Homo sapiens: one gene and its partners. The protein of the gene in region 2 interacts with the protein of the main gene of each other region in a pairwise test. Each region holds a gene or a part of one and is shown on either strand. Other genes may lie near its edges.

What was found.
Region 1: the proteins of HMG20A (region 2) and CFAP53 interact in binary tests that used the Homo sapiens proteins (3 or more experiments, as listed by UniProt).
Region 3: the proteins of HMG20A (region 2) and CCDC136 interact in binary tests that used the Homo sapiens proteins (3 or more experiments, as listed by UniProt).
Region 4: the proteins of HMG20A (region 2) and TBC1D22B interact in binary tests that used the Homo sapiens proteins (3 or more experiments, as listed by UniProt).
Region 5: the proteins of HMG20A (region 2) and PTH2R interact in binary tests that used the Homo sapiens proteins (3 or more experiments, as listed by UniProt).
Region 6: the proteins of HMG20A (region 2) and SLC30A8 interact in binary tests that used the Homo sapiens proteins (3 or more experiments, as listed by UniProt).
Region 7: the proteins of HMG20A (region 2) and ADD1 interact in binary tests that used the Homo sapiens proteins (3 or more experiments, as listed by UniProt).

The regions. Positions count from the first base shown.
Region 1 is NC_000018.10:50,248,981-50,253,463, reverse strand, and holds part of CFAP53 (cilia- and flagella-associated protein 53), read left to right. Parts: intron 1-1,679; coding exon 1,680-1,983; intron 1,984-2,487; coding exon 2,488-2,706; intron 2,707-4,483. UniProt on the Homo sapiens protein: Microtubule inner protein (MIP) part of the dynein-decorated doublet microtubules (DMTs) in cilia axoneme, which is required for motile cilia beating.
Region 2 is NC_000015.10:77,472,188-77,476,670, reverse strand, and holds part of HMG20A (high mobility group protein 20A), read right to left. Parts: intron 1-4,483. UniProt on the Homo sapiens protein: Plays a role in neuronal differentiation as chromatin-associated protein. Acts as inhibitor of HMG20B. Overcomes the repressive effects of the neuronal silencer REST and induces the activation of neuronal-specific genes.
Region 3 is NC_000007.14:128,805,203-128,809,685, forward strand, and holds part of CCDC136 (coiled-coil domain-containing protein 136), read left to right. Parts: intron 1-156; coding exon 157-322; intron 323-558; coding exon 559-699; intron 700-1,034; coding exon 1,035-1,193; intron 1,194-1,485; coding exon 1,486-1,656; intron 1,657-2,157; coding exon 2,158-2,343; intron 2,344-3,333; exon of another isoform or gene 3,334-3,562; intron 3,563-4,247; coding exon 4,248-4,442; intron 4,443-4,483. UniProt on the Homo sapiens protein: May play a role in acrosome formation in spermatogenesis and in fertilization.
Region 4 is NC_000006.12:37,274,095-37,278,577, reverse strand, and holds part of TBC1D22B (TBC1 domain family member 22B), read right to left. Parts: intron 1-4,483. UniProt on the Homo sapiens protein: May act as a GTPase-activating protein for Rab family protein(s).
Region 5 is NC_000002.12:208,440,309-208,444,791, reverse strand, and holds part of PTH2R (parathyroid hormone 2 receptor isoform 1 precursor), read right to left. Parts: intron 2,429-4,483; coding exon 2,331-2,428; intron 1,445-2,330; coding exon 1,255-1,444; intron 59-1,254; coding exon 1-58. UniProt on the Homo sapiens protein: This is a specific receptor for parathyroid hormone. The activity of this receptor is mediated by G proteins which activate adenylyl cyclase. PTH2R may be responsible for PTH effects in a number of physiological systems.
Region 6 is NC_000008.11:117,155,252-117,159,734, reverse strand, and holds part of SLC30A8 (proton-coupled zinc antiporter SLC30A8), read right to left. Parts: intron 2,045-4,483; coding exon 1,891-2,044; intron 1-1,890. UniProt on the Homo sapiens protein: Proton-coupled zinc ion antiporter mediating the entry of zinc into the lumen of pancreatic beta cell secretory granules, thereby regulating insulin secretion.
Region 7 is NC_000004.12:2,923,551-2,927,892, reverse strand, and holds part of ADD1 (alpha-adducin), read right to left. Parts: intron 1,880-4,342; coding exon 1,781-1,879; intron 1,252-1,780; coding exon of another isoform or gene 1,218-1,251; intron 1-1,217. UniProt on the Homo sapiens protein: Membrane-cytoskeleton-associated protein that promotes the assembly of the spectrin-actin network. Binds to calmodulin.

The DNA of each region.
Region 1 (4,483 bases), on a different chromosome or scaffold from region 2:
AACTCTAAGATGGGGATGATACCTGCTACCTGCAAACTATAAAGCACTCACAAACATAAAGTTTTCCTCTTATCAATGATTATTATCATTAGAATAAATAAATATTCTGTCTATCATTTAATTTATTTTTTTAGAAACTGGGTCTTACGGCTGGGCGCAGTGGCTCACGCCTGTAATCCCAGCACTTTGGGAGGCTGAGGCGGGTGGATCACAAGGTCAGGAGATCAAGACCATCCTGGGTAACACGGTGAAACCCCGTCTCCACTAAAAATACAAAAAATTCTCCAGGCGTGGTGGTGGGCGCCTGTGGTCCCAGCTACTCCGGAGGCTGAGGCCGGGGAATGGCGTGAGCCCGGGAGGCAGAGCTTGCAGTGAGCCGAGATCGTGCCACTGCACTCCAGCCTGGGCGACAGAGCGAGACTCCGTCTCAAAAAAAAAAAAAAAAGAAACAGGGTCTTACTGACCTAGAGTGCAGGTTAGAACGCATTGGTATGGTCCTAGCTCACTGCAGCCTCAAACTCCTGAGTTCAAGTGGTCTTCTTGCCTCAGTCTCCCAAGTAGCTAGGACTACAGGCGTGTGCCAGCATGCCTAGCTAATTTTTTAAAAACTTTTGTAGAGACAAGGTCTCACTGTGTTTCCCAGGCTAGTCCTAGTCTCCAGCGATCCTCCTGCCTTGGCCTCCCAAAGTGTTGGGATTACAGATATGAGTCACCATGCCTGGCCAGATATCCTATCTAGCTATAGTGAGCATCTCAGCCTGGTGTAGTGGCTCATGCCTGTAATCCCAGCATTTTGGAAGGCTGAGGCAGGAGGGTCACTTCAGACTAGGATTTTGAGACCAGCCCTGGCAACATAGCAAGACCCTGTCTCTACAAAAATAAAAATTTTTTAATTAGCCAGACACGGTGACATGTGCTTATAGTCTCAGCTACTTGGGAGGCTAAGGTGGGAGGATCACTTGAGGCCAGGAGTTCAAGGATGCAGTGAGCCATGATCACGCCACTGCATTCCAGCCTGAGCGACAGAGTGAGACCTTGTCTCTTAAAAAAAAAAGTGAGCAGCTGGGTACGGTGGCTCACGCCTCTAATCCCAGCACTTTGGGAGGCTGAGGTGGGCGGATCACAAGATCAGGAGATCAAGACCATCCTGGCTAACACGGTGAAACCCCGTCTCTACTAAAAATACAAAAAAATTAGCCAGGCGTGGTGGTGGTCACCTGTAGTCCCAGCTACTCAGAAGGCTGAGGCAGGAGAATGGCATGAACCCGAGAGGTAGAGCTTACAGTGAGGTGAGATGGTGCCACCGCACGCCAGCCTGGGCAACAGAGCGAGACTCTGTCTCAAAAAAAAAAAGAAAAAAAGTAAGCAACCCTAAATTAGGGGTTCTCAAAGTCAAGTGAATAGGTCAGTCATTGGGGTTAACAGGTTGAGTTTTTGATCTGAGATCACACAGGAAATGGAGTCAGGGCTGCCTTTGCTTTACTCCAGTTTTCATAGTCAGGCTGTGCCATCCTGGTGCTTGCCCTCCCTGCTGCTCCCTCTTGTTTCCTGTGCTCCGATGGCCTGCATCCAGGTCTCTGATTTTTCTTGCTTCATTGTGTGATTGTACAGATGTGTGCCTCAATAGAGCAGTGCCTCACGAAAGGCTGGGTTTTGTCTTTTTAAAATTTTCCTTTCAGGGAACGCTGTGAGGAGCTCCGTGTTGAATTGTTATCTATCCATCAGAAGAAGGTGTGTGAGGAGCGGAAAGCACAGATTGCATTTAATGAGGAGCTGAGCAGGCAAAAGCTGGTGGAAGAGCAGATGTTCTCCAAACTCTGGGAGGAAGACCGATTAGCCAAGGAAAAGCGAGAAGCCCAAGAGGCGAGGAGACAGAAAGAGCTGATGGAGAACACACGCCTGGGGCTGAATGCCCAGATCACCAGCATCAAGGCACAAAGGCAGGCGACACAGCTGCTGAAGGAAGAGGAGGCACGCCTTGTGGTGGGCCTTTAAAATGCTTGTTAGAGGGTGATCAACGCCATGGGTGTAGTACAGTTTGCAGGCCTGTTACAGTACAGTTTGTCTGATGGCCTGGGCTAGTTCACAGGCACATTTCCATTTTTGGACTCTTAGTGCTGTTTAATAATGTATCCAAATGTGTGGTGCAGAGTTCATAGAAGGGTCAAGTGTGGAAGGCCAACGCACCCACAGGTGGAGAATGGTGGTGGATGATGGGTACTGGGATTAAAAGTAGTTTCTGTTTATACTTTTCTGTTTTCAACTCTACAACTATTTATTACATTATAATCACACATGCCCAGGCAATTTTCACAGTTTTATTGCTGACTCAGCTACGAAAAGGAAGGTTTTCTTTCTTACAGCCTCTCTAAATCCAGGTGTGTGTGTATTTCCAGAAATCCTTTATTCCCATCTCTGAAGTCAAATGCACTAACTTGTCTTGTCCAACTGTACTGATGCATTATCTTTATTATGATTCTACCTTAGGAAAGTAACAACGCACAGATTAAACATGAGAATGAACAGGATATGCTAAAGAAACAGAAGGCAAAGCAGGAAACTAGGACCATTTTGCAAAAAGCCCTACAAGAGAGGATAGAACATATTCAGCAGGAATACAGAGACGAACAGGACTTGAACATGAAGCTCGTGCAAAGGGCCCTTCAAGACTTACAGGAAGAGGCAGATAAAAAGAAACAAAAAAGAGTAAGACATTTTTTTGGTGCCTGCTACCTGCTGGAAGGGATTCCTTACTGAGTTCTCAGTCTTGTGGAAGATGGCTTCAAATATATAGCAGTGCTACTCTGAGTGTGGTCCACAAGCCAACAGCATCAGCACCATCTGGGAAAATGTTAGAAACAGAAATTCCCAGGCTCCAGAATCAGGATCTCCCAATCAAAATCATGACAGGGGCAGGAAATCTGTGTTTCAGCACACTCCCCCAGGTGATTCTGATGCTAACTAAAGTTTGAGAACTCCTGGAATTTGAGAAAGACATTACTCAGAAAGTGACATTTGAGTTGGACCTTAAAGGATATGTAAAGTTTTGTCAGGCAAAAAGAGAAGGGAAAGGCATTCAGTATTGAGTTAACTACCTATACGTTTGGAATTTGGATTGAACTTTTAAGAGTGTTTTGTTTCTCCCACAAGTGCTTTTTCTTGTTTTTACCTGGTTCTTAGTGTGCATGTACTTTGATTTTTAATTAAACTTCTCTCTCTCTCTCTCTTTTTTTTTTTTTTTTTTGAGACAGGGGTCTCACGCTGTAACCCAGGCTGGAGTGCAGTGGCATAATCATGGCTCACTGTAGCCTCGCCCTCCTGGGCTCAAGCAATCCTCCCACCTCAGCCTCCCGAGTAGCTGGGACTACAGACATCCACCACCTAGCCTGGCTAATTTATGTATTTTTTGTAGAGACAGGGTTTTGCCAAGTTGCCCAGCCTGGTCTGGAGTGGGCTCAAGTGATCCTCCCACCTCAGCCTCCTAAAGTGCTGGGATTACAGGTGTGAACTACTGTGCCTGGATAAACTTTTCATTTTGATATGATTGTAGATTCACATGCAGTTTTAAGAAATAATACAGAGAGATTCCTTGTACCCTTTACTCTGGTTCCCTCAATGGTAATATCTTGCAAAACTATAGTACCATGCCAGTCAGGATGTTGACATTGATATAATCAAGATACTGAACATCTCATCATCACCAGGATCTTTCATATTGCCCTTTTATAGACACACCTACTTCCCTCTTGCCCCACCCCCTTCTTAACCCTGTTCTTCATTTCTATAATTTTATTATTTTGGGAATGTTATATTAGTAGAATCATATAGTGTGTAATCTTTTCAGATAGCCTTTTTCACTTAGCATAACCCTCAGGAGATTTGTCCAACTTTTTGGATCTATCAATAGTTGTTTCTTTTTCTTTTTCTTTTTTTTTAATTTTTTTTTTTGAGACAGTCTTGCCCTGTCACTCAGGCTGGAGTGCAGTGGTGTGGTCTCAGCTCCCTGCAGCCTCAACTTCCCAGGCTCAACTGATACTTCAGCCTCAACCTCCTGAGTAGTTGGGATTACAGGCACAAGCCACCATGCTCAGCTAGTTTTCTTATTTTTTGTAGAGATGGGGTCTCACTATGCTGCCCAGGCTGGTCTTGAACTCCTGGGCTCAAGTAATCCTCCTGCCTTGGCCTCCCAAAGTGTTGTGTTTACAGGCATGAGCCACTGCACCCAGCCTTCTTTTTATTCTTTTTTTTTTTTTTTTTTTTGAGATAGAATTTTGCTCTTGTTGCCCAGGCTGGAGTGCAGTGGCGTGATCTCGGCTCACTGCAACCTCCGCCTCATGGGTTCAAGCGCTTTTCCTGTCTCAGCCTCCCGAGTAGCTGGGATTACAGGCGGGTGCCACTGCGTCTGGCTAATTTTTGTGTTTTTAGTAGAGACAGCGTTTCGCCACGTTGGCCAGGCTGGTCTCAAACTCCTGACCTCAGGTAA
Region 2 (4,483 bases):
GCAGGAAGTGAGAAATGAAGAAACTGCTAGTGAAATCTTAAGATCCCAGGACCTTTATAACATGAAAAACATGCAAACATAATACCTAGATTTCATTCCTATAAACAATTGTTTAAAGCTAGACAGAATGTATCTTTCCTACTCTTGTCACCACTAGCTTTTTTTTTTTTTTTTTTTTTTTTTTCTGAGAGGGAGTCCCTCTCTGTTGCCCAGGGTGGAGTACAGTGGCACGATCTCAGCTCACTGCAACCTCTGTCTCCCAGGTTCAAGCAATTCTCCTGCCTCAGCCTCCCAAGTCACTGGGATTACAGGTGCCCACCACCATGCCTGGCTAATTTTCTGTATTTTTTTAGTAGAGACGGGGTTTCGCCATGTTGGCCAGGCTGGTCTTGAACTCCTGACCTCAGGTGATCCACCTGCCTTGGCCTCCCAAAGTGCTGGGATTACAGGCTTGAGCCACCGTGCCCAGCCTCCACTAGTTTTTTAAATCTTTGAACACAAAAATGACTTGGTGCCCAGTAGAAAAGCTAAGCAGTTCACAGCTTAAGAGGGAAATCTGACACCCGAGCTCCTGTATTCATAACGGTGGCCGCCTAGTAAGGGGGCTGGGCTGTGTGAACCACCTGCCAATGGCAGCTGAGCAAGAAAGACACTGAAAAGCTATGTAATTTCAGAGCACTTAATTTCTACTTGTATTTTTCTTCCTAACAAAAGAAAGCAAAGTTTCCCAGAATAATTTGAAAATGAACAACAAAATTATCAATCGAAAGTCCCAAGTTTCAACATGCAAAGCTCTACCTCGAGCCAGTTCCTAGGGGATTTCAATGGAAACTAATGTATGAACAAGAAAGGCTGGTTCCAGAAGGAATCTTAGCCATATTTCGCAGTGGCTTTCTCTCAAATTTGCTGGCTTCCCATATGCTTTAACTGTTACTGGGCTGCTGCAGGAAAACAAAACTTAATGACACACAATCCCAACATGCACAAGGCATAACAGATATAAACATAAGTCCACAGATGACAGCATAAAGACTTAGGACATTATCATCCTATCTTATTCAATCTCCAACTTAACTGCAGTTACATGAGATCAGTTACCTAAGCTATACGTCTCAATATCTGCCAGTTAGATGGGTAAAGTGGAGACGCTTGGCTCCCATTACCATGGTACAAAGATCCCTCTCCTCCAAAGTCTTGACTCTCCTCAGACTGGTAATCTTTTCTCTTCTTTGCCAGAGCAGTCCAAATCAAGCTAATTATGTAAGGGCAGAGGACAGCACCACATAGGTGCATTAACACACTGCCCCTTGGTACAGATTCTCAGAGCACAAAATAAGAAACATTAAAGCAATTCAATGAAACTGTTCAGTCTCTGAAAGGTAACAGAGAAATTCTACTTAATGGAAGAGTGGTAATAAAAACCATCAGCGCTCTTCCATTACTGAGCACATTTCACGGCATGGAGAGGATCCTTCTGGGGGCTTGGGTGTACTTAAGCTGCTCCAAGGATAGCTCAAAGGATTAAAATCATAAGGATCTGATTACCCTTTCACTGAAAGGGTCTAATTTGTTCAAGCTGAGTGTCATTCTGTCATTTCTCATAAATTAAAGGAGAAACAAAATTATTGTTTCTATCTTAGTTTTCACATGAGATATAGACACTTTCTTGAGAGTAATACTCGCTAACTCTTGGGTCTAGTGGGCTGGCTTTCGATTTGAGAGGAGCAAGAATATTCTTCACTTTGGTTTCCATTCTATATATTGAGTGGAGGTTAAGAGAAAAGAGGCCCTTTTGAACTGAACCTATTTTGCTGTGATCTAGGCTCAGGGCCAGAATTTCAAAGAGTGTGATATGTGCTTCTCTCAAGAGACTTTTACTTTGGGAAATGCTCTTAACATTGTGTACCAGCCTGAAGTGCCCCACTGCTATGCAGAATGGCTTTCAGGTCAGCATTTCTTTAGCTCTAATATGCCCTCTCCAGTACCTGCCTTGGTAACAATGACTTAGGGATCCAAGTTTCATTTAGGAATACAATAGGTTTCTTTACTATACACAAACCAAATAGTTTACTTAACTGGCAACACATTTTGCTGACACCTTGGGCAACGAGGCCCATTTTTACTTTCAACGCTGTAATTTATGCTATGTAGCATGGCACTGTGCTGTCAAGAATGTTAGACTATGACACAGAAGGCCTGGGTTTCTGTCACAATTCTGCCTCTAATTTAATTCAGTAAGTGATTCTGGGTAAATTCTTTCCATTCTATATACTGTCTTAGGCAAGTCACTTTCCTCACTGGCAAAATGAGGTGGTCAGTTGAGAGGATCACTGAGTCTCAGTGTTTTACTCCTCATAGGATAAGTAAAGGGAAATAAGTATGTATTTAGGATCTATGGTCTTTAGACACTGCAAGATATTTGCTCTTTTATTAAAAACTTACTCATACCTCTGCTCAAGCCATTTTACCCACCCTGAGATGCCCACAAAACCTAGGTCATTTTTAAGTCCTGATTCAATTACTCCTTTCCATGGGCTCCTTCTGCGGCTGCTTTTCACCCATAGTGCTATTTTTCTGAACTTCTATTATACTAAGAAGTTATATGTAAGAAAATTACTGGGTAACAGTGTTTAAAAACAGTTTTAAAACTTTCAAATCAGTTCTTTTATACTGCAATTGTTCTAAAATTATCTAATTTAGGAAACATATTATTCAGTGAAAAATAAAAATGGATGAAGTAAGGGACATTAATTGGGTCAACACGCTTACTAAAGGAGCTTTATCCTGCTGTGGCCATACCAACACATGGATTTACAGAACCTACTGTATAACCTTTTAAGAAACAACTGCTGGCTCTCCATCTACTCACTCCTTTTTTTTGTTTGGTTTAACATGTGTCTAATCCTGTAACAGGGAAATACAGAGACTCACTTCTTTTTGCAAATCACAGAAATTACAGAAATTCATATCACACTAATGTATCTGAATAAACACCTTCACTTCTCAAATAATCAGCAGCAGGTTCTATGATACAGACTAAATCTACATCTTTTCTGACTGCAACTATCAAGTTTACTGAAGACAAAAATGCTACATATAGTTTGGCCAGCAAAATTCATAGTGATGAAATGAGTCAGATGACTGACACCTATTCAGATGACTGACTAGAAAATGTGAGATCTAATGTTTCAGGTTACTGTCCAAATTCTCTTTGGTAACTGTTAAGGATAGAGAAGCTATAAAATAGAGAAAAAAAGAAGCACAGGAATTTCATGATATTGATAGCTGGGCACACAGGCAAAGAAAGAGAGAAGTAATTATACAAATGTCTGCTAATATGAAAAGTTTACAATATTATTATGATTTAAAATACAAAGAATACATACAAAGTTTCTCCAGCAAAACAACATAACATTTCATCCTAATTAGAGCATAGAATGTCATATATAATTACATTTATATAGGATTTATCTGAAGAATAAAATGTAAATATTTACTATGCTTCTCACTTTATAATTCATAGATGGTAATAACGTCTATTTGACCTGTGAATCTGAATCTTTTCTCTATGTTTTAAGGTAACCAACATTTCCTTGATTTAGTAAAAAACCAAACACATGTAAAAGAGTACATCAGAAAATTCTTTTTGTTCAAATTCTCAGTTATTTCAGGTCAACTTTGAATAGATTCCATAAAATAATCATTTGTGGAATACCTTCTCAAGGCAAAGGTATCATGATAGGTGGTATGGGGTTGGATATAAAGATGGAAACTAGACTGTGTATGTCCACAAAGACATTACAACCAAAGAGTGTGAGCCCTTGAATTACCTCAAAACCCCTAGGTCAGATCAGCTAAGCACATAACACAAGTATAGAGAGCCATGAGGGTTAAAGGAAGTTAGAGGAAACAAGAAAAGTTTGAAGGAGAAAACAGAATTTGAAACAACACACACACCTAAATCCCATACACACACAGAAACACAGGCCTAAATCCTAACAATGGGGCTGAACCAAGTGGGAGGAAAGAAGCCAGTACACAAACATGTGCTAGTGAAGTGAGGGAATAGGAAAGGAGGTGTGAGAACTGAGATACTGGGCCGGGCGTGGTGGCTCACGCCTGTAATCCCAGCATTTTGGGAGGCCAAGGCGGGTGGATCATGAGGTCAGGAGATCGAGACCATCCTGGCTCATATGATGAAACCCTGTCTCTACTAAAAATACAGAAAATTAGCCGGGTATGATGGCACGAGCCTGTAGTCCCAGCTACTCGGGAGGCTGAGGCAGGAGAATTGCTTGAACCCGGGAGGCGGAGGTTGCAGTGGGCTGAGATTGTGCCACTGCACTCCAGCCTGGGCGACAGAGTGAGACTCTATCTCAAAAAAACAAAAAACAAAACAAAACAAAAAACAAACCTGAGATACTGTCGCTTGTGCTCTATCGACATTGTAGTTGAACAGTTCGCTTTAAGCAAATGCTGGATT
Region 3 (4,483 bases), on a different chromosome or scaffold from region 2:
TGTAGTCTTTTAAGCATGTTTATCTGAGCGGTGAGTCACAATAGAAGGCCCCTTACTATCTTTGGCCTAAAATGAAGGTATCAGGACAAAGCCTGCATGGCTGGTGATGCCAGGCAGAACTCCCTTCAAGCATAGCTCTGCGGTTCTGAATTGCAGGACACAGAGAGCAACAGAGAGATGGCTGCAGTCCCAAACACTGAGTATGACGTCAGCAGAGTCTCAGACTTCAGAAATGGATTTCTTAGAGCCTGATCCTGAAATGCAGTTGTTACGGCAGCAGCTACGGGATGCTGAAGAGCAGATGCATGGCATGAAGAACAAGGTAGGGCACAGAGGGTGGGGAAGGCAGGCACATTTCTTGTCTTTCTTTCACCTTCTCCCAGCCTGTGGTAGAAACATCTCCATAGGCATCCACTGTGGAGGGAGATAGTACTCTGGGGTCTCACTTGCCTGATGTAAATCTTCCAGTCAAAGAGCGCCATGCTTTCCCCAAGCTTGTTCTTGGAGCATATGTGGTATCTGTAGTAAACAAGCCTCCCTGTTCCATTTCCCACATAGTGTCAGGAATTGTGTTGTGAGTTGGAAGAGCTACAGCATCATCGCCAGGTCAGTGAGGAGGAGCAGAGGCGGCTGCAGAGGGAGCTCAAGTGTGCTCAGAATGAGGTGCTTCGGTTTCAGACCTCCCACAGTGTCACCCAGGTAAACACTGCCCGGGGAGGCATCTGGGGTGGGGGCAGAAGGGCCTCATGGAGGGGCTGCTTCAACCGGGGTGGGCACAGTGAGTATGGCTGTGCTCTGCTGACTCTTGCCCTGCAACTGGGCACAGTCTGCTGGAAACCAACTGTAGAAGTCATATAGCACTGCATTCTAGAAATGGTGGTCATTACTGAGTGTCCATCTCACAGAAGAAACCAAACCCTAGACCTGTGGGAGCTCCTCAAGATGTCTGCATCTGAAAAGGAACCCAACTGATCCGTAGAAAGACCTGCTGTTTCTTGAGAGTAACTGTTCTACTCACATCCTCCCTACCACAGAATGAGGAGCTGAAGTCCAGACTCTGTACCCTGCAGAAAAAATATGATACTAGCCAGGATGAGCAGAACGAGCTCTTGAAGATGCAGCTGCAACTTCAGACTGAGCTCCGGCAGCTCAAAGTCATGAAATCCACACTTGTAGAAAACCAGAGTGAGAAGGTAACAGCAACCAGAGGTGAGGGGACAACTTAGGTGCTAAGGGCATCCTTCTGAGGTTTTGGGGAAGGTGGATAAGAGTAGTGAGTTAAAAATAATTCCAGCAACCACATAGGCAGCACCACAGGTAAAGAACTCCAGCCCTGCTCGAGTACTACATTAGATATGAGGACATTAGGAAGTGAAGGGCAGGAAGAAGCAAATCTTAGACTGTTGGTGTCTTCAAGTGACTCACACAGAAGAGTGAGTGGGTTAAGGAGCCCAAAGGCACTGCCCAAAGCCCCCTCTACCATAGGAGTTACTGTGCCGGCTGCAGAAGCTGCACCTCCAGCACCAGAACGTCACATGTGAGAAGGAAAAGCTGCTGGAACGGCAGCAGCAGCTGCAGGAGGAGCTGCAGTGCCATGAGGCAGAGCTGCAGCACCTCAGGGATACGGTGGCCTCCTTCAAAGAGAGCAATGAGAAGGTAAAAGAAGCTCCTGGTGAGGGAGGATGTAGCCAGGCATCATCTTGTGTGAGGGTGAGAGCACAGAGGACGAGAGGGAATGGTAGGAGTGTGGAGGAGCTGGCAGTGAGGGGGCCAAAGAGGTGCTTAGGAGAAAGGTGACCTCGGGGAGTCACAAGGCTCTCAGCTTCCTTTGATTTTAAATCAGAAAAGCAGCATATAAAAAGGAAGTCCCTTTGCCTCCCCACCTCCCAAAAAAGGAAGCCCCAGAAGGTCTGTGTTTCTTTTTAAATTATTTTTATATTTATTTATTTATTTATTTAACTGGAAAGGCTGCACTGGGAAGGTCTGTGTTTCAAGCCTGTCAGGGACGGGTCCATCTTGGGTATCTATCCCTGGCTGGGATGAAATTGGGGCTGAGAAGGACAAGGGAAGATGGGTCCCCTTAGTCCCCGCCTGGGAGGAGAGAGTCCAGCAGCAGGAGTGCCTGGGATGATGGCCAGGCCTGCCTCCCCTGCCCAGGACACAGAGACGCACGCTCAGCTTCAGGAGATGAAGCAGCTGTACCAGGCCAGCAAGGACGAGCTGGAGCGGCAGAAGCACATGTATGACCAGCTGGAGCAGGACCTCCTGCTCTGCCAGCTGGAGCTGAAAGAGCTCAAGGCCTCCCACCCCATTCCGGAGGACAAAGGAAAGTGTGCTAATAAGGTAATTGTCGTTCAGAGAGGTGACAGCTCCTGGGCACTTGCTCCAGAGAGAAGAGGTACAGAGGCAAAAAGTGAAGGCACCCAACCCAAGGGCTTGATGGCCTTCCTAGGCAGGAAGCAGAGGCAGGGCCACATGCTGCTAACTTCAAAATTGTTTGCCCTGACCTTGACTTTGAGCCAGAGCCACAGCTTAGTAGGATCAATACCTTTGGATCCCAGTCTGAACCCCTGAAAGTTTTACACATGATTCCATGTATGTAGACATTTATACAATGGTATTAGAACTGTAGTGATATCTAGTCATTCTTGGAGGGGAACATATACATGGGCCCATTACACAAATATTATTGTTGGAACTAGAGAAAGGGGCCAGTTTTCTGGGTCAGATTGCAAATGGTCTTATAAAGGGGTACGGTCTTGTGCCCAGAGTGCTGATTGGGCAAGAGAAGGACCTAGGCTCTTCTAGGATTTATTCTGTGACTTTGAAGTAGTTAAATTCTTTTTTTATGAAATGGAGTCTCACTCTGTCGCCCAGGCTGGAGTGTGCAGTGACACGATCTCAGCTCACTGCAGCCTCCGCCTCCTGGGTTCAAGCAATTCTCCTATCTCAGCCTCCCAAGTAGCTGGGACTACAGGCACATGCCATTGTGCCTGGCTAATTTTTGTATTTTTAGTTGAGACCGGGTTTCGCCATGTTGGTCAGGCTGGTCTCGAACTCCTGACCTCAGGTGATCCACCTGCCTCGGCCTCCCAAGGTGCTGGGATTACAGGCATGAGCCGCCATGCCCTGCCAGTAATTAAATTGTGGAAGGTTGAATTGTGCCCTCTTTAAATGGAAGAGAATACTACTCTTAACTCACTTCCTTTTAGCAGTAAATCCTGGTAGTGATAAATAAGGCCTTATTCATTTTTTTTCTTTTCCATAGTGTATAAAATGCAAGCCGTTATCATTTATCCTGTTGAGCACTTTCAGCTCCTGATTACTGATGGGAAATGGAAAGGTGTTGAAGCATGTTGGAGAAGAGGCCCAAGAGTCTCTAACGATGGTGGAGTTGGTCACATTCTGCCAGAAAACTCAGTAGTTCCTGTCCCTGGGGAAAGGCCTTCAGGAGACGGAGGACTGGGAAGGTTATTTGGGCCACCTCAGCAGTCTCTTTGCCTTTCTATATCCAGGCTCACGTTTCCTCCTTTTTCCACTGCTACTCAATTTAGGAGCCCAGGTGATCTGTGACTTGCTCGTCACCTCTTCCCCTAATGGGAAAAATGATGGGAAAGGAGAAGCATGCTGGCAGACAGCACCTGCTTTTTCTCTAGCCGTAAAACAGCATTGAGATCTGTCTGATATTAGAAGATCTGGGTTTTTGGAAATGGGATGATTTAGTCTTCTCAACCCAAATTTACCAATAGCGCATACTTTCTAAAGATTTAAAGAGAGAATTAGGAAAGCAAAAATGGGAAAAATTAGGGTGAAATTAAGTCCTTATTTGTAAGGAGTGTAGTTGCATTAAAAAACAACTGGGGTTAATGAGAATAACAGGAGCTAAGAGTTCCCAACAGGGTGGGAATATGGTGTATAAAGGAAAGGGCCGGAGAAGAGGAAGGGGGAAATGAGAAAGGGGCATCGATAGCATTCCCCATCAAACTGCCCCCAGAAAGGAATGGTGGAAGTTTAGAGCAAGGCCAGCCACCAGTCTAGAGCAACCTGCTCTGAAGGAGCAGCCTGCAGGGGATCCCCAATCGGTATCTAAACAGCCAGAATGCATTGTGGCTTGGGGTGACCAGTCCAAGGTGACTGCACAGGGAGAGGATCACAAGAGGCAGGAGAGCGCAGAAGTGCTCTGTTAGCCACCCAAGAAGCTTACCTTACAGAGTAACCACCCCCTCCACACCCGCCCCCACCCACAGTGTGACACACTGCTGTCCAGACTGACAGAATTGCAGGAAAAGTACAAGGCCAGCCAGAAGGAGATGGGGCAGCTGCAGATGGAGCAGTGTGAGCTCCTGGAGGATCAGAGGAGGATGCAGGAGGAGCAGGGCCAGCTGCAGGAAGAGCTGCACAGGCTCACACTGCCACTGCCAAAGAGTGGCCTCTTACTCAAGGTAACTCTGCCACAGGCAGCTGCTAACTGCGGGGAAGCTGC
Region 4 (4,483 bases), on a different chromosome or scaffold from region 2:
CTATGTGGAGCAGCAGTAACTATGTCGAGGAGCCTGCCCTCTGCCCTTACCCCACCCCCATTTTAGACATGTAGCATGAGCAGGAAATAAACCTTTACTATGTTAATCCACAGAGATTTGACAGTTGATCTGCTATCACTTAGAGCAGCACATAAACTACTGGCAGAAAACAAGATAATTTTAGGTAGTCCACATATGTAGCATTAAACATTAAGTCCCAAAATAAAAAAGTTGTTCCATTTTTTATTCTGTTAAAAGTTCTTCTGCTGGCCTTGAGAAGAAAGTTGAAGTTTGGTGCTACTCTGTCTTTAAGACCATTTTCTAACTAGGTGCCAAAGTGACGGCAGCCTCAGAATCAATATATTTGCTAGCAACAAGATCTGCCTCTGGATTTAATAAGATTGTTTGGTTTTTCACTGAGTATTTATATGGTTCTTTTCTTTTAAGAGTCAGGGCCTTGCTCTGTCACCCAGGGTGGAGTGATGGAGTGCAGTAGAGAAATCTTGGCTTACTGCAGTCTTGAACTCCTAGGCTCAAGCAATCCTTCCACCTCAGCTTCCTGAGTAGCTGGGACTATAGGCGCACACCACCATGTCTAGCTTTTTTTTTTTTGAGAGATAAGGGTCTCATTATGTTGCTCTCGCTAGTCTCAAACTCCTGGCCTCAAGTGATCCTCTCACCTGAGCCTCCCAAATTGCTGGGATTACAGGCATGAGCCACCACGCCCAGAAGTTCTTCTTATTTATAACAAATGTTGTTTTCTATTTATAGAAATGATAATATTTGTTCTTAAAACAAGACTATTTGAGTGGCCAGGCACAGTGGCTCACGCCCGTAATCCCAGCACTTTGGGAGGTGGAGGCAGATGGATCACTTGAGGTCAGGAGTTTGAGATCAGCCTGGCCAACATGGTGAAACCCCATCTCTACTAAAAAAATACAAAAATTAGCCAGGCATGGTGGCGCATGCCTATAATCCCAGCTACTCGGGAGGCTGAGGGAGGAGAATTGCTTAAACCTGGGAGGTGGAAGTTGCAGTGAGCCAAGATCACACCACTGACTCCAGCCTGGATGACAGTGTGAGTGACACTCCGTCTCAAAAAAAAAAAAAAAAAGAACTATAGGAGACAAGTACCCAAATCAAAGAAAATAAAACTGAGGCTGCACGTTCTGGACTCATCCACCATGGCTGCTTCTCCTTTGTAAAAGGGGACCTGATCTACCACCTGCAGTACCACCTCAGGGGATTCGCTGTCGAGAACAAACATGCAGCTGTGTAAGAAAGATCTGTCATCTAATATAACACCCAGGAGTATGTGGTTATTACTGTTTTTCCTCCTTAGAGGCCACGTGTACATTAAGATTGCATAAATACTGGATGTTCTGAGAATTCTTTAATCAATCATCAAATCAAGAAGTTGAATTTTAACTCAGGTCAAAGAGCTGACTTGAAGCTGGTGGCCTAACACAGGGTGACACACACGCACACCAGGACCGGATGAACACACTACAGGGAGAGACGGGCCAGGCTGCCTGTCAGGTTCTAACAGGTGCTGACTTCTGAGAAAAATGAAGGCCGTTAACCAGCTGAGGGGTGGGTACCAGGGTGTGTGTTGTATTTTTCTTCATACGCTTTTTATGCATTTGAAGGTTTTCGTTTTATATATATATATATTTTTGTTTGTTTTGAAAAGGAGCCTTGCTCTGTCACCCAGGCTGGAGTGCAGTGGTGCGATCTAGGCTCACTGCAACCTCCACCTCCTCGGTTCAGGCGATTCTCTTGCCTCAGCCTCCTGAGTAGCTGGGACTACAGGCACGCACCACCATGCCCAGCTAATCAGGCTGGTCTCAAATTCTTGACCTCAGGTGATCTGCCCTCCTCGGCCTCCCAAAGTGCTGGGATTACAAGTATGAGCCACCATGCCTGACCAGTTTTCATTATATTTTTGAAGCAGATAATGATTCAATATATATTTGAAGTAGATTAAGATTGGAATTTACTCAAATGAAGACTTGCCAATAGAAACTGGGAGGACACTTTCCAACACAATGAAGAAGAAAGAAGGGAGAAAAGGCTGTCATTCCCCATGACATAAAGACATGAGATTCAAGGCAGACCATTTTGAGGCTGCTAGAAATGATTTTAAGGATACCTAGCCCACAAAACCCCAAATTCAACCAACCAATTTAAAAGTCAGCTCTGTCCTGAGGAAAGAGGCTTTCGTGGAGGAAGGGGTTGGTTTCACCTAGAAAAGGGGAAGAGTCTGAGGACAAAACAAGGTTGGTGAGAACCACCCACAAGAATGAAAGAGAAGGCTGGGCATGGTAGCTCATGCCTGTAATCCCAGAACTTTGGGAGGCTGAGACAGGCAGATCACCTGAGGTCAGGAGTTCAAGACCAGCCTGACCAACATAGTGAAACCTCATCTCTACTAAAAATACAAAAATTAGCCAGGTGTGGTGGTGCACACCTGTAATCCCAGCTACTCAGGAGGCTGAGGCAGGAGAATCACTTGAACCCGGAAGGCAGAGGTTACAGTGAGCCATAATTGTGCCACTGCACTCCAGCCTGGGTGATAGAGCAAGACTCCATCTCCAAAAAAAAAAAAAAAGAAAAAAAGAAAAGAATGAAACAGCAAAGCAAGAAGTGAAAGGTACTTTGGGTTACCACTGAGAGAAGGCAGAGAATCCACAGACCAGGAGCAATAAACAATGATGGGTAAATTTAAGGCTTTGAAGCTTTTCCATGTTTACTAGTTATGCTCTCTCCAGAGGAGATACATAAATTCACAAATAAATACATATAAATATTGGCTACTCACTAGCCATATTCATACATATTCATAATATTCATAAATATTGAATACTCACCAGACCCTATGCTAAATTTTAATATATACCCATTTTCTTATCTAATGCCCATTAATAATCCTATGAGGTGGGTATTTTTGTTAGTCCCATTTACAGATGAGGGAACTGAAGCCTACTGAGATCATGAGCAGGCAGTGAGGTCTGGGCTCAAATCCAGGTCTACCTGACTCCTGGGCCAGCATGTGCTACTAACTACTTACTTTACCTTGAAAAAAGCAGCTAAAAAGAAGAAGGTCAGGGCCTAGAAGGATCTGCAGCCTAGGAAGAGAAGTCGCCAAGTAAACCAAGCCACATACCACCACAGCTATAATTCTCCCCAACTATACACAGCCAAAAGCCCAACTCTCACACCCTGTAGGAAAAAAAAAAATCTCAACTTGTAGGAAAAGACTTAGGTCTGACACACATAGCCTATTCTGAGTAGACAGGAAAGAAGCCACATCTAGGCATGGGCTCCTTGTAAGAGAAATGTCACCCCTTTCTGTTGACCCCAGTAGTTGCAGCAAAAAGTTAATCCAGGTAACTCCAGCTGGGGATGCCTTCGGTTTATATACTCCATTTAAACACAGTCCCAGGTAGTTTACACTTAACTCAATGTAAAAGAATGCCACAGTGTGGCTTGAAGTCTAACCAAGATTATTTATTATTATTATTATTAAGATGGATTCTCGCTCTGTCTTCCAGGCTGAAGTGCAGTGGTGCAATCTTGGCTCACTGCAATCTCCGCCTCCGGGTTCAAGCGATTCTCTTGCCTCAGCATCTTGAGTAGCTGGGATTACAGGCGCATGCCACTACGCCCAGCTAATTTTTGTATTTTTAGTAGAGACAGGGTTTCACCAATGTTGGCCAAGATGGTCTTGAACTCCTAACCTCAGGTGATCTGCCCACCTTGGCCTCTCAAAGCGTTGGGATTACAGGCGTGAGCCACCATGCCCCACCCTAACCAAGATTATTTAAACACAACTCTATCAAAGTCACAACCAAACTGGCCTCTGACGAACACCTTCACCATACCTCCTTACAACTGTACGATAAATTATAGTTTAGAAAGCACCTTTGCAGATACCTCATGCAATCCTCACAAATCTGTGAAATGAGTCTTACTATCTCTATTTTATGAATGAAGAAACTAAGGCTTGGAAAGTTTCAGTAATGTGCCCAAGGTCATGGAAATGGTAAGCGGCAAAGAAAAAGAGATTTAAGAAGTGCAGGGAATACTAAAAATTTCAAAAACCTAATAAATGGCACATTTGACTTGGTAAAGTGTTTGGTGATGAGTACCTTAGTAACACAAACACCTAAGGATATGTTGAAAAAGAGTGGCCACAGGTTACACTGGTTAGGAGTACAAAAGATCAAGCATTCTGTAATTTGATCATACTACACTGTCTTACTAATACGGATGTTCTACTTAACAGAATTTTCTAGAAAAATGTTTGACACTGACAAGTGATGTGAAGTGGAGAAATTTAGTAACAATCAAATAAATCCAGATATCTTAGTAACTAGTGTGGCTCCATGTGAACTAGTTTTATAACTTGGAATTAGGACCTAGCATACTTGAGCATCAATTCAAAAAACAATAAACTTAGAAGCTTGTCATACCATCAAGT
Region 5 (4,483 bases), on a different chromosome or scaffold from region 2:
AATAATAATTTGTAGCCAGGAAGTAAATAAACATCACAACAGCAATCTTGCACCCGATCTATTACAAATAAACCAGAATTTCATCATATTAGAACACTTTGTTGTACTGGATGCCAACATTAGACCACTAAAAAACAAGTCTTCAGTTTCTTTTTCAGGCTAATATGTCTCCTTTACACAGTAAAGTCAAAACTGTTGAGAGGCCAAAACAGTTATTTTAATGCATCATTTTTCAAGACTATGAACTTGATTCTATTTTTAAAATAAGTTTTTTCTTTAAGAAGTTACCAAAAAAATCACCTTTTCTCAATTTTTTCACTTTATAAAAATAATACACGACCATCACAGAAAATTAGGAACATATAGAAAAGTATAAAGAAGAAAATGTTACCCATATTTTTAGCTTGAATTTATTTTATTTTGGTCTTTTATGCAGCTATTGCTGCAAAACAAGCTGCCCCCAAAGTTAGTGACTTATAACAATAAACATTTAACATATCTTAGAAATCTGTGGATGGGCTGGGTAGTTCGGCTGATCTGGGCTAGGCTTGTCTCGGCTAGGCTCACTGAGTAGAGGTCTACTCTCAACTGCTACACTATTGCGTCCACTTCCTTCTGTTGGGGAAAGCAAGTCTCAGTGCCAGCCCAGAATCAGAATCAGCAGGGACTATAAAGTTACAGGGCAAAGGCACAGATCCAGACAGGGTATTAATTCACACCATCAAGACAATCAATCTACTATACCTAATTTCAGATATATTGCTTCAATGATCTAATTGAGTGAATTATTGGATCAATCTATTTACTACCACCAGGACATTCAAGAGCAGAATCAAGTAACATAAAATTTTATATTGGAACAAGTCTTCGAGTACTCAATAAAGGGACTAAATATCATGGGCTTTTAAATTGCAAGCTTCTGGTTTTGCTGATGGGATTTTTACTTTCGAAAGTGGTGAGCCCCATGACAGTTGCTGTGGTGCCTATGCCAAATACCATTCCAATCTTGTGCATTTTGCAGTTTCCATTCCAGAATATTCTTGAGGAAAAAACCCAAGAACTTTTAATAAAATGATTGATTAGACATGAAAGGACAGAATTGAGGGAGAAAACATCACTATACAAATTGATAATCCATTTTAGTTAGTTCAGAGATAAGTAAAAGCAAGTTAACATGTTTAGTGGACTGTAAAATTGTACTTATTTGTAGTGTTATACAAATTAGTAATGAGAGAAAATGGTGAAAACACTTACATATTGTGATTTGTCCACAGAAGTTGCCTCAATGGAATTTTGTGGGTCATCCTGCATTATTAGGGACTCCAGCTCCTTTACTCCTATGTGAGCATGGACTACTCTGTCTTTGACAAAGATGCTTGTAGCTCTCAGCATGAAAGACACAAATAAGTGCATGTGGATATAGTTCCTAGTGCAATGCAATCGTCTACGGAGAGAAATATTCAGTATTTAAATTTGGATAAAATTAAAAATGGGGGAAACACCCAGTGCGACTGCTGCCACCACCAACCAGCCTGCTCCCCTCCAGCAGGGACTGGTTCGAGACTCCACACAAATTCCAAAATCTGCAGATACTCAAGTCCTTTATATGATATAGTGCAGTATTTGCACATAACCTATGTACATCATCTTGTTACTTTAAATCATCCCTAGATTACTTATAATACCAAATACAATGTGAATGCTATGTAAATAGATGTTATACTGTATTGTTTAGAGAAAAATGACCCAAAAAATAAGTATGTAAATGTTCAGTATGAACACAACCAAACTTTTTTTTCTGAGTATTTTCCATCCACAGTCTGTTGAATCTGGGGATGTGAAATCCCAGTATATGAAGGGTGACTGAATTGGTGCTCAAAATTTTGTAATGATTTCGATTAAGTTGAATGGAATTGGACACATGTTAAAGTGGATAAAAAATAAACCATAACAAAAGCAATAAATACTATTTCTTTATGTGCTGGTATCCAATAATTTGGGAGATTATTTAAGATGAATTTTTGTCCAATAGCACCAAAATCTCTCGGGAACTCATTCAATTCGATGCTGTCTTACTTTGCAACAAATATACTTCAGTACATACTTATTGGGTTAAAGGTTTCATACTACTTTGATACTTTAAGTTTTTAAACAAAGAACCCTGAATTTGTCATGAAAAATTAATTGTCAAATAACATAATAACATTAGGCTGAATTCAAAAACTTGCATTTGAGGAAAACATTTGGAAAATATTGTGAGACCGCTATGTCTTCTCTGGATAGGAAAGACAATGTGCCCCTTCATGGAAAAAGTGATGGGCATCACTCACCTGAAGTAACCAATGATGAGAATAGCCACAGCCAAGGAACCAAAAGAGATGGAGTAGCCAACGGTATACATTACATAGAGGCGTTCAAAGAATTCTTGCTGCAAGGGAAGAGATGCTCATGTATGATATGGGACTATTTTACCAATAAACTGGCAAAGAAATAGTATGTCATTTTTGGAATCTTATTTCTAATTCTCTTTAACTTTTTTAAGCTGTAATTTGCATGCAATAAAATGTAGAGATCTGGAGTGAGCATTTTGATAGGTTTTGACAAACCAAGTTCATTTGTGCCCCTTGCTAGTCAAAAAAACACCCACTATCCACCCCCAGGAAATCACTGTTCCAATATCTGTCACCACAAATTAGCTTTCTCTGTTCACATACTTCATATACCTCTTGACTATTCTTAGACTTCTTAGGATTACATGTTACAGTATATACTTTTTTATCAACATACTGTTTTTTATATTCATCGATATCGTTACATGTATAAATAGTTCATTCCTTTTCAATTATTTTGTTTTAAAATAATTATAGATTCAAAAGAAGTAGAAAATAGTGTAAGAAAAGCCCCAGGTTCCCTTCACCCAGTATTCTCCAAAGCTTACATCTTATGTAATTTTACTAAAATATCAAAACCAGAAATTTAATATTGATGCGACACGCATATTTATAGTTCTATGTCATTTGATCATATGTACATTTTTGTAACCATTACTGTAATCAAGTACAGAACTATTTCACCAACACAAAGTTCTCCTTGTTCTGTCCCTTACGGTGACACCTCCTCCTCTCCACCATGCCAAACACCTGGCAACCATTAATCTGTTTTCTGTCTCTATAATTTTGTCATTTCATAAATGTCATATAAGTAGAATTATACAGTATGGGATCTTTTAAGATTGGACAATGGTGTAGAAATGTGATTGGACAAAAAGGATGTAATCTAATACTAATAGACTAAATGGGGAAACTCAACAAGCGTTTTCCATGTTTCAATCAGGCTAATCCAATGAAGCCTCCATAAAAGGGCCAAGAAAATGGGATATAAAGAGCTGCTAGACAGCTGAATTTACGGAGGCTTGCAGGAAGGTGAACCAGAACTCATCCATTTACCAGAAGGGTGGTGCACCCCAACTCCACCGGAACAGAAGCTCCTGCACTTCAGACTCTTCCAGACTTCGCCCTATATGTCTCTTCACCTGGCTGTTTATTTGTATCCTTTAAAATATCCTTTATAATAATATATAGGAAACGTAAGTGTTTCTCTGAGTTATGTGAGCTGTTCTAGCAATTAATCAAGCCTAAAGAGGGGTTCGTGGGAACCCCAACTTGAAGGTGGTTACTCAGAAGTTCAGGGGCCTGGTCTTGCAATTGGCTGCTGCCTTGTGCTCACTGGGAACTATGCATCTCTAGGGGATTTGTCTCAGCTTCCCTGCCCTTCTCCTGGCCTGTGGGCTGCATCAGTCATGCAGTTAGTGAGGGCCCCCTGTGCCTCAAGGGATGCCTCTCAGCTCCTCTGTCCTGATCCATGCCTTCAGCCAACTGCTGCCTTTCACTCTGTGAGAGCCCTGTGCACATCTCAAGGAATTTCTCTGAGCCCTCTGCCTGCCCCAGCCTTTGGCATACTTCCCCCATGCACTCGGTGAAGACCTCACGGCAAAGAATTGCCTGGTGGATTATAGCTTACTAAGACTAGGGCTTACTCCTTGGGATTCTAACTCTTTATGCTAGCCCTTGTCTGCTATTGGTATAAAAGCTTGTCTCTTTTCTCTTTGTCCCCTTCAATAGCCTGTTTTCTCCCCTTCTACTGTGGTCCTAGGGATACACGCAGCCATGGGTCTCTTCTCTCATAGGAAGGGCTTGCCCATTTCTGGAATTTAGTTCATTTAGATTTCTTGGCATCCTCAACTCATGTTTACAAATTATTAATTTTGCATCTAAGCCAACTTATTGTTGCGACTGCCTACAATCTGACTGGAAGCAGGAAGACTTTGCCTCTTGTTTCTTTTAAAAAAAATATTAATTACTTATTATTTTCTCTTAATAAAATAGTAAAACTTTTCATAGAAAATATTTGAATAATGTGTAAAACATAAAAGAGAGGAGAAAAAAAATCTTACAAATTCTAACCAATCAGAAAGAAACACTGT
Region 6 (4,483 bases), on a different chromosome or scaffold from region 2:
CCATATTGTTCTCCTTATGCAAAGCGGACTTTATTGACCCGTAGTCAGCAATATGTGTGCTCTGGCATATTTGTCTCCTAGAGGTGACAGATTTACATTGATCTACTCACACTTTTTCTCCCAGTGCCAATGTGAAACACATTTTCAAGTTAACTGGCTAAAGATGGGGATCTAGTCAGTGACAGCAGATCAAACACCATTCTTCTAATTATTTAGCTCAGAGATTTTGAGCAATGGTTCACAAACTGAGAGCTGAGTAAGTGAGATGTCAAGGGGCAAGGCTGTTAGAATGACCTGAGGACCTTTTTCAAAGTGTACATGCTCAGCTATTCTTGAATTCCAGAGATGTCATTGTGCCCCCTCTTAAAATCCACTGTTTAAAACTTCATTTTTCGATCACTGTCTTCTCTACCTTCATGTAAAAATCTACCTCATAGCATGTGTCAAGTTGTATTGCAAGATAGATAGGCAGATGATAAATAGGCTGAGTTTCCTATTGCTTCTGTAACAAATAACCATGATGCTTTAGCAGCTTAAAACAACACAAACTTATTATAGTTCTGGAGGTCAGAAATCTAAAGTGGGTCTCTAGGACTGCATCCTTTGTGGAGGTTCTAGAAGGAAATTCATGTTCTTGTCTTTTCTAGCTTCCAGAGGCCACTTGGCTCCAGGCCGATTTCTCCATTTTCAACATCAGAAATACAGCATCTTCTCTCCTCTCTGATCTCCTGTCTCCCTCTTATAAGGACGCTTGTCATTATGTGGACCCACCTGGATAATCAAGGATAATTTCCCATCTTAATATCCTTCATCATATTTGCACAGTTCCTTTTGCCATATGATTTAACATATTCAGAAGTTCCAGGGGTTAGGATGTTTAAAGCTTTTTAGGAGAATGGGTCATTATTCTGTCCACCAACACGATAGCTAGCTAGATCACTAGATAGATAGATGGATGGATGGAGTTTTAAGTAGAGTTGCCCAGAATTAGACCCTCAAATGGGAAGGAGAAATTTGACTCAAAAAAATCAAAGTCCTGGCCTCAAAACCCCATTGCCTGGGCAATCCAGTAGTTCATTTTGGGAAAGGTAGACTCATTTGTCAAGGGACATATGCTCATCTCCTGTAAGAATGATTTAAGACTGCCTAGATAAAAGAATGGACAAGCAGGTTGAAACTTAAGGGAGAATTTAACTAACATAGCATAAGGAAGAATTTTCATGCAGTCACAATGCTGCAAAGATAAAAGAGGCTGTTTTTGAGGGAAATAAATTTCCTTTTATGAGTTCTATTAAAATATATGAAACTAATGACCATTTTATGGAAATGTTGCAAAAGAAAATGCAAAAGTAAAATGGGGACTGAAGTAAATACATTTTAGAGTCCCTTTCCACCCAGCTCACTGGGAAGCCACCATCTGCTCACCCCATAGAAATGGAACAGTAGTAAGTCATGCCCCATGTGGAACCATCAGCATGCCTGAGAGCAGAATGTAAAGCAGCTCAATTCTGGGTCTGCGAATCTGGATTAAAATCCTGGCTCTGTACTACTTAACTGGCAGTGTATTTAACCTCACTGGGCTTTAGTTTCCTAATCTATAACATAGGGGTGTTGTGAACATTAAAGTTGGTAATATATATTCAAACATCCTAACCCTGCCTCTAGCACACCAGAAGCTTTCAAAACATGATAGCTAGCAGAAGCCAATATTAAAAAACACTTTAGCTTAAACGAAAGCAGTCAACCTTATTTTCAATCTTAGAGCCATTCAAACACTCTGTCCAGTCTCTACCATCTTCACATGTACTGAGTTTTTTAAAAGGTCGACTTTGTCCAGATAGTTACAGGAGAGCCTCATGAGCAGTGTGTGGGGACCAGGGGATGACTTACACAATGTTGGCCGCCACTGCGCAGCTGGAAACGATGATCATCACAGTCGCCTGGATCTGGTAATCAGGATACAGCAGGCGCTCACATGCCAGGTACACTAGCACGCCAGTCACCACCCAGATGCACAGGATGGAGAGCAGGGCACCAAGGATCTCTAGGAATTCAAACACACACAGAAACCCACACACAGATAACTCCATCACCTACACCTACACCCCCAAGAGTCATAAGACACTTTGCCACTTCCCCCAAAAAGGCTTCACATTAGTTCATCCAGTGATTCACAAAGTAAAAGTGTGGATGGATTTTAAAACTAAGAGAAAGTATTTTAATGTTGCATTCATAAAACACCAGCATCTGAGTCACTATGTTCCATCTTACTAAGTAATTTTTCAGCAAATTTTTAGAACATATTAATTGCTGCCTGCCCCTACCCCCTGTTTTCCTTGGGGATCTTAATTTAAACAGGTGCTAAAATGATTGAAACTTATTAGGAGGTAAAATAATGAGACACAGAGAGTAAAATGTGTTTAGAAACTCTTAATTTTGCCATAAAAAATTTACGACCTGCCAGTGCCAGCACCTTCAATGGAATAAAATAGTGAAAAGGGAAAGCTTCAGAGAGCACTTGAAGAAAATGAGTTTTATTTGCCAACGCAACATATTATAAACACAGAGGTGAGCTCAGAGGCTGACTAACACTCTGACTGCATTTTAAGAGCAACAGTACGAAAAAGAAGCATCAGAATAGAAGTGTTTACATCAATATGTAAAGATAAAATGGTGTTCAATCTGCCCACTGAGAAAAGTGCATTTGCTCACTTAGGAGTTAACACCTCACTCTGACCTTTAATTCAAACCCATAGATTCTAAAAACCCAGAAAGGTCTAGAAACATTCTGTGAGTCAGTGGTCAGGTACAATCCATCATTTAGTCCTTCCCCACTTTAAGCTAATCCCAGAGATTAGTTCCTTTTAAAGCAGAGTAATGTAATATATTATTACCCATTGTGTGGCAATTATTTCCCAGACTTTAGTCATTTACAGACAACCTTCATAACGTTTTCCAAATCCACATGCTACCTGTCTTATTAACCACTCGATATTTTTTCAAATAAATTCACTTTTTACACTTAGCTTCTTCCTAAACAATGTTATCCATGAAATTACATATTTGATGTGCTAGTTTATTTTGTAATGTGCATCAGGATGTGTAATTATTGTCCATATGACACTTAAAATTATCTGACTAACCAACTGTGGAACATTTCTCACACTATGGGAAATGCTGATGCAGATGTTTAAGGCATGAGCTCAAGTGTCAGACGTATATGGCCTGCCAGTGACTGGCTATGTGACTTTAGACAAGTCACTTAACCTATTTGAGCCTGAATTTTCTTATCTATATGTATTATAATAATAGAATATATGTAAAACAAGTTGCCATAGATTATGGGTTGAATTATGTTCCCCCCAAATTTATATGTTAAAGTACTAATCTTTGGCTGGGTGCGGCGGCTCATGCCTGTAATCCCAGCACTTTGTGAGGCTGAAGCAAGCGGATTGCCTGAGGTCAATAGTTCAAGACCAGTCTGGCCAACACGGTGAAACCCCATCTCTACTAAAAATACAAAAAAAATTAGCCAGACATGGTGATGTGCACCTGTAATCCCAGCTACTCAGGACGTTGAGGCAGGGGAATTGCTTGAACCGGGGAGGTGGAGGTTGCAATGGGCCAAGATTGTGCCACTGCACTCCATCCCGGGCAACAGAGTGAGACTCTGTCTCAAAAAAAAAAAAAGTACTAATCTTCAGTTCCTCAGACTGTGACTTTATTTGGAAATAGGGTCACTGCAGATTAAGTTAGTTAAGATGAGGTCACATTGGAGTAGGATGGGCCCAATATGGCTGGTGTCCTTGTTTAAAGTGGAAACCTGGACATAGACATGCAAATTGGGAAAATGCCATGTAAACATGAAAGCAGAGCTCTATGAGCTAAGGAATGACAAAGTTTCCCAGAAAACCACCAGAAGCTAAGAGAGAGGCCTGGAACTGACTTCCCCTCACAGACCTCAGAAGGAACCAACCCCACTGACGCCCGATTGCAGACTTCTGTTTCTCATAACTGTGAGACAATAAATGTCTGTTGTTTAAACAGAAATGTATTTAAAACCAAGTAATGTAATATATTATTACCCAGTGTATGGCAATTATTTCCCCGACCTCATTCATAGACAACCTTCATAATTTGTTATGAAAATTAATAATGTACCCCCCAAAATACTGTACCCAATTTGTAGTACATTATTAAGGCAGCCCTAGGAACCTAATATAACATATAGCAAACACTCAAGAAATTGTTATTTTATTAGTCTACTCAGGCTACTTACGACTCCCCTTTGCAGAAGTTTATGAGGACCAAGCCCAAGAATTTCTGGTTAGCCGGAAATGGAGGTTGAGTCTGTGGATGTCAGGTAGTGTGCTTCCTATCCATGAAAATCCAAAACAGGGTATGAAAGTGGAGTGTGTCTAACTCAAAACCCATGATTAGGAAGCACAGTGGGAAAAGAGCTGGCGAGGTAAAGCTCAATACC
Region 7 (4,342 bases), on a different chromosome or scaffold from region 2:
AAGACAGACTGCAGCACAAGCTGAGGACGACTAAAGGAGCGACGTCCCGCTTTCATTATGTGACGAGAAGTCTGCCCTGTCACCCTAAGGGCATGTACTAGTAGTACTGAAATTAAGTCTAAATTTGGGTCTACAACACCTGGTCTCCCCCAAAACAGCCAGTAGAAAATCGTGCATAACTCCCACAGCACGTTGTGTGACGTCAACATCCAAAAGAACAAAGCCGTTTAGGCTGGAAGTTAATTAAAAGGAAAGAGATGGCCTGTAAGGCAAGGAGTGGGGGCAAAAACTCCACCCAGCATCAGGAGTGGCCATCTGTGAAGGAGCACAGCGGCCCTGAGGACACAGCCTGGGGGCGCCTTCCTTGCACTTACCCGGGCACCCGCTCTGTCCATTCGTAAACGGCCTACAAAGTTACCAGCAACTGACAGGTTAGGCACCACAAGCTGTTTAGTGTTTAAAAATCAAGCCACACATCAGGGCCAGGGGAGTCAGCTGAGTGGTTAGGAGCAGCACAGGAGGCCCAGGCCCCAAACTCTCAGTGCTTTACCTTTGGGAAGCTGGAAGCACCCCCACCCTGCCAGCTGCCCCAGGCTAATTCCAGGCCACGCTTCATGAGAACCGGGAAAGGGCTATGGGCACACAGGCGCCGCTCCCCCTGAGGAGATGGGGCCCGCTCTGCTGGGCATGGTGTGGCTGATGCTAGGACGGAGGCTGCCCCAGGGCACTCGCTCTGGAGAGCTGCCATCATCTGAGTGAACATCACACTGCTTTACGAGGGTCCAATATCCGCTCCTCTGCCCACCTCCTTTGGACCAGCTTCAGCAAAGGTCCAAGGCAATCTGACCCCACACGGCAGGTGGCAGAACCCCACCCTGTCTGAACCGAGGCTGCACTTACATCTGATCCAGTGTGGCAAAACCCTCCCACCAAGCAATCCAAAGAGACCCTCAAAGGCTGGAGGTAGGAACTCCTGAGGCCCAGAGTGCTCCATGGCACCTAGGTGCGTGGAGGTACCCGCTGCCGCTGAAGGCAGCACAGCACTCAGGTGACTGAACCACTTCCAGGAAGGCCTCCAAGGGACTGGGTACAAAAAAGGGGGGCTTCTGTTTTTATTTTAAATAAACAGAAAACAAAACTTAATAAACAACAAAGAAGCAGGAGAATGAGGCAAAGCGCAGGGCACCGGTGGAGAGCGGAGGCAGCACGGTACTTACTAGGGTAACAGGTACTCTCTAGCGCATCCGTCTCCTGCTTGTGACGCAGCCACAGGGAGAAAAAAGCACAAGGAGAGAATCTATGCATTCAGTCACAGCCATCAGGTTACAGAAGAAGAAAGGCAGGGCCACGGGCTTCACGAGAGACATGGATGTACGAGACCGAGGGACAGACACCCGGGATCACACACCACAGACACACGGTGGCTGAGAGGCAGCCGGCGTGTGGCTCACACAGCGGAGGGCACCTCCGAAGGTGGCATCTGCATGACAACACGGCACGAGGAGTGTGCGAGCAATGGGCAACGTGGACACCAGCAACCATGGTGGGTTCCGACCCCCGAGGCCGGCCTTCCTACCTGGTCACAGCTCACATACAAATCTGTTTTGCCTGGAGTTACCCAGGACAGAAGCAATATAGGAGGAGAAAGGTGTCACGTCCTGGCGCTGATGCAAGCACACACTTCCGTGTTGCTGTTAACACGACTCCCGCCACATTCCGCCACAGCGCGCACGAGCCGTGCACCCTCCCACAGTGGCGGCCGCTGCCACCCAGAGCTCACCTTCCTCCAGCTTGATGGGAGTGCTGGGAGGCGGGTGGGGGACCGCAGGCTGGTCTGGAGGACTCTTTTCTTTCTGTTCTCTAGCCTCGTCCAGATTCTCTGCAGAGAAGCAAGAAGGATATGGTAGGAGCTGTGGACGCCACGCCATGAGCCTGTACCTGCCTCCATGGCAGATGGGGCAGCCCGCTCGGCCGCCCTCTGAGAAGGCAGGGCTCTCTCAACCCTTTCCCTGATCCTCTCCAAGAGAGGATAAAGGAAGCTGTGACCTGGGTGTTGACTGATGCGAATTTCAGAGAAACTTAACCAACTTCAGATACAAAACTTATTTCTATTCTTATTCCAAAGAGAGTCTGCCAGAGCCACTTCTGTGATGGACTCGAATGGTATGCCCTGGCCTGTCCCCCGCTGTCCTGTGCGAGTAGGGACCCCTCCCTCCCTGCCTTCTCCCTGCTGAGCAGGTGGCTGAGGGTCCTGAACCCACTCACCACCTTAAGGGACATCACATGAGCATTATTTTGGTTTTAATTCTGTGGTAGGGCATTTTATCCCAATAATTTAAACTTGGCAACTGTAATACGTATTTTTACTTTTTAAAGTGAAAAATGCTAATAAGAACCAGAGGAAAAAATGCAGGAACTAGGATCCTGGATATAGAAAAGGATTCCAAGTCTACTTCTCATTTCGGGGAAAATATGGACCAGCACTATTCTAACTCCTTCCATCTCTGTCTTTATTTCAGAAGTTTAAGATTAATAGCTTAGGATCAGCAGGTCCGTATTTTGAACCAGCAGCTATCATCATCCTTCTGAGCTCCCAGGGCCTCTGCTCCCACCCTAACAGCTGGCTCGCCTCCCCAAGTACCACGTTGGCAGCTACCTTCCAGAAGCCAGGTGTCCATAAAAAGGCCGCCATACCACCTAGCTGAGTGAGCATACAGCCTCAACCGGGAAAAGGTGCTGACCTCTGGCAGCCAGCCTGCATTTTACCTGTGGCACATTCTCCCCTCAGCCCATGCCAAGGGCCAGATCAGACCTCCTGTGGGTTCTCCTGCTGACAGCTCTGTGATCACAGAGCACGGCCAGAGCCTGTCCCCATCCACTCAGCTGCCATCACAGCCCTGCTGAAGGAGCCTCACACATCGGGGGGAAACTCCACATATCTTGTTTGACTTGTTTTTAAAAACAATCCAGGTTACTCAGATCCCAGGAGACTCCAAAGGGCAGACACATGTCTGTGTACATGTGCACAGAAACTAGGAGGAGGCCACATGACCCACAGCTCAAGCTGACTACCTCCAGTTCTCGCTCTAAGGCAGGTAATTACAGCAATGGCTCAGACAAAGCTTCACTGGAGGGAGACAACCAGCAGCAGGGCCTGGTGTGTGTGGCGGCCTGAATAGTAAATAGCGGTGTGACACTGAAAAACAATTCAGCAACTCAAATTTCAGTCACAACTACGTAATGCAGTGGCTGGTCTAGAACGAGACAAAAACCGGTGAAGAGGTCCTCTTAGGAGGAGTGCCTAGCTCCCAGGATGACGACGGCCCAGGAGAGCAACAGTCAGTCCCACACAACAAGGTGGCTCCAGCAAGGCTGACCCCGGAGGACTGAGAAGCACACTGAGGTTTCAGTAAAAACCTGAGTTGGAGCTTACGGCCCTGAGGATGCTGGCGGGAGCCTCCTGGCAGGGGTCCCTGTGCCCCTGGTTCTTCTTGGTGCCAGCACCAAGGCTGCTCAGAGCCTAGTGGACAAGAGAGCTGGCAGCAGGGAGCTTGGGGGAAAAGCAGCTGATGCCCAAAAGCCCTCAAGGAATAGGCTTTGGAGACCTGCTTCTCTCATTAGTTCTCAACATTTCCTTTTCAAAGCCTGACATTTGAAACCACCTGCTCCGTGAGGGTCTCAAACTTGAGCCGCTTATTTGTATTCATTTTAAGACTGCCCCATCTTTGACAAAAACAAGACCGCCTTTGTCAGCGGGCTACCAAGAGAAGTACAGGCTGCACCAGCCATTCCTGATGGGACCTGGGCACATGCCAGGGCAGTCAGCATTTTCACCCTCCGGCCTGTGACCACACCTGCACAGGAAACCCTCAAGGTTTATGGAGAAAGAGAATTTCTGTCAGAAACCCCAAGCCCTACACACAAGCACAGTAAGGACGTTCAGAGCGTCCCCCTGCACAGAGGCCGGGGCTGACTGCTGTGACCAAAGACTCAGTGAGGAAGGCAGTGCGCTTCTGTCCAAATCAGGGCTCGGCCACGCACAACCTCGTTCTCGCGAGCCGCCCTGTCTGAGCTCCCTATTCCTCTGCTCCAGCCGGGGGAAAATGACCTATCTCTCAGGGTTACTTTGAGAATGAGATGAGATGTACGCACAATAGCACTGGGCATGTGCCCGGCACAATGACTGCTCAGCAATGCTGAGTGTTAATGAATCAAACTGAGTAAAGGAGGTCTCTCCCCGGTGAAGCTTCAACAGACAGAAATACTGTGTTCGTAAAGAGACAAATGTCAGGGTGACAGGCAACATGGCCGAATAGGAACAGCTCCGATCTGCAGCTCCCAG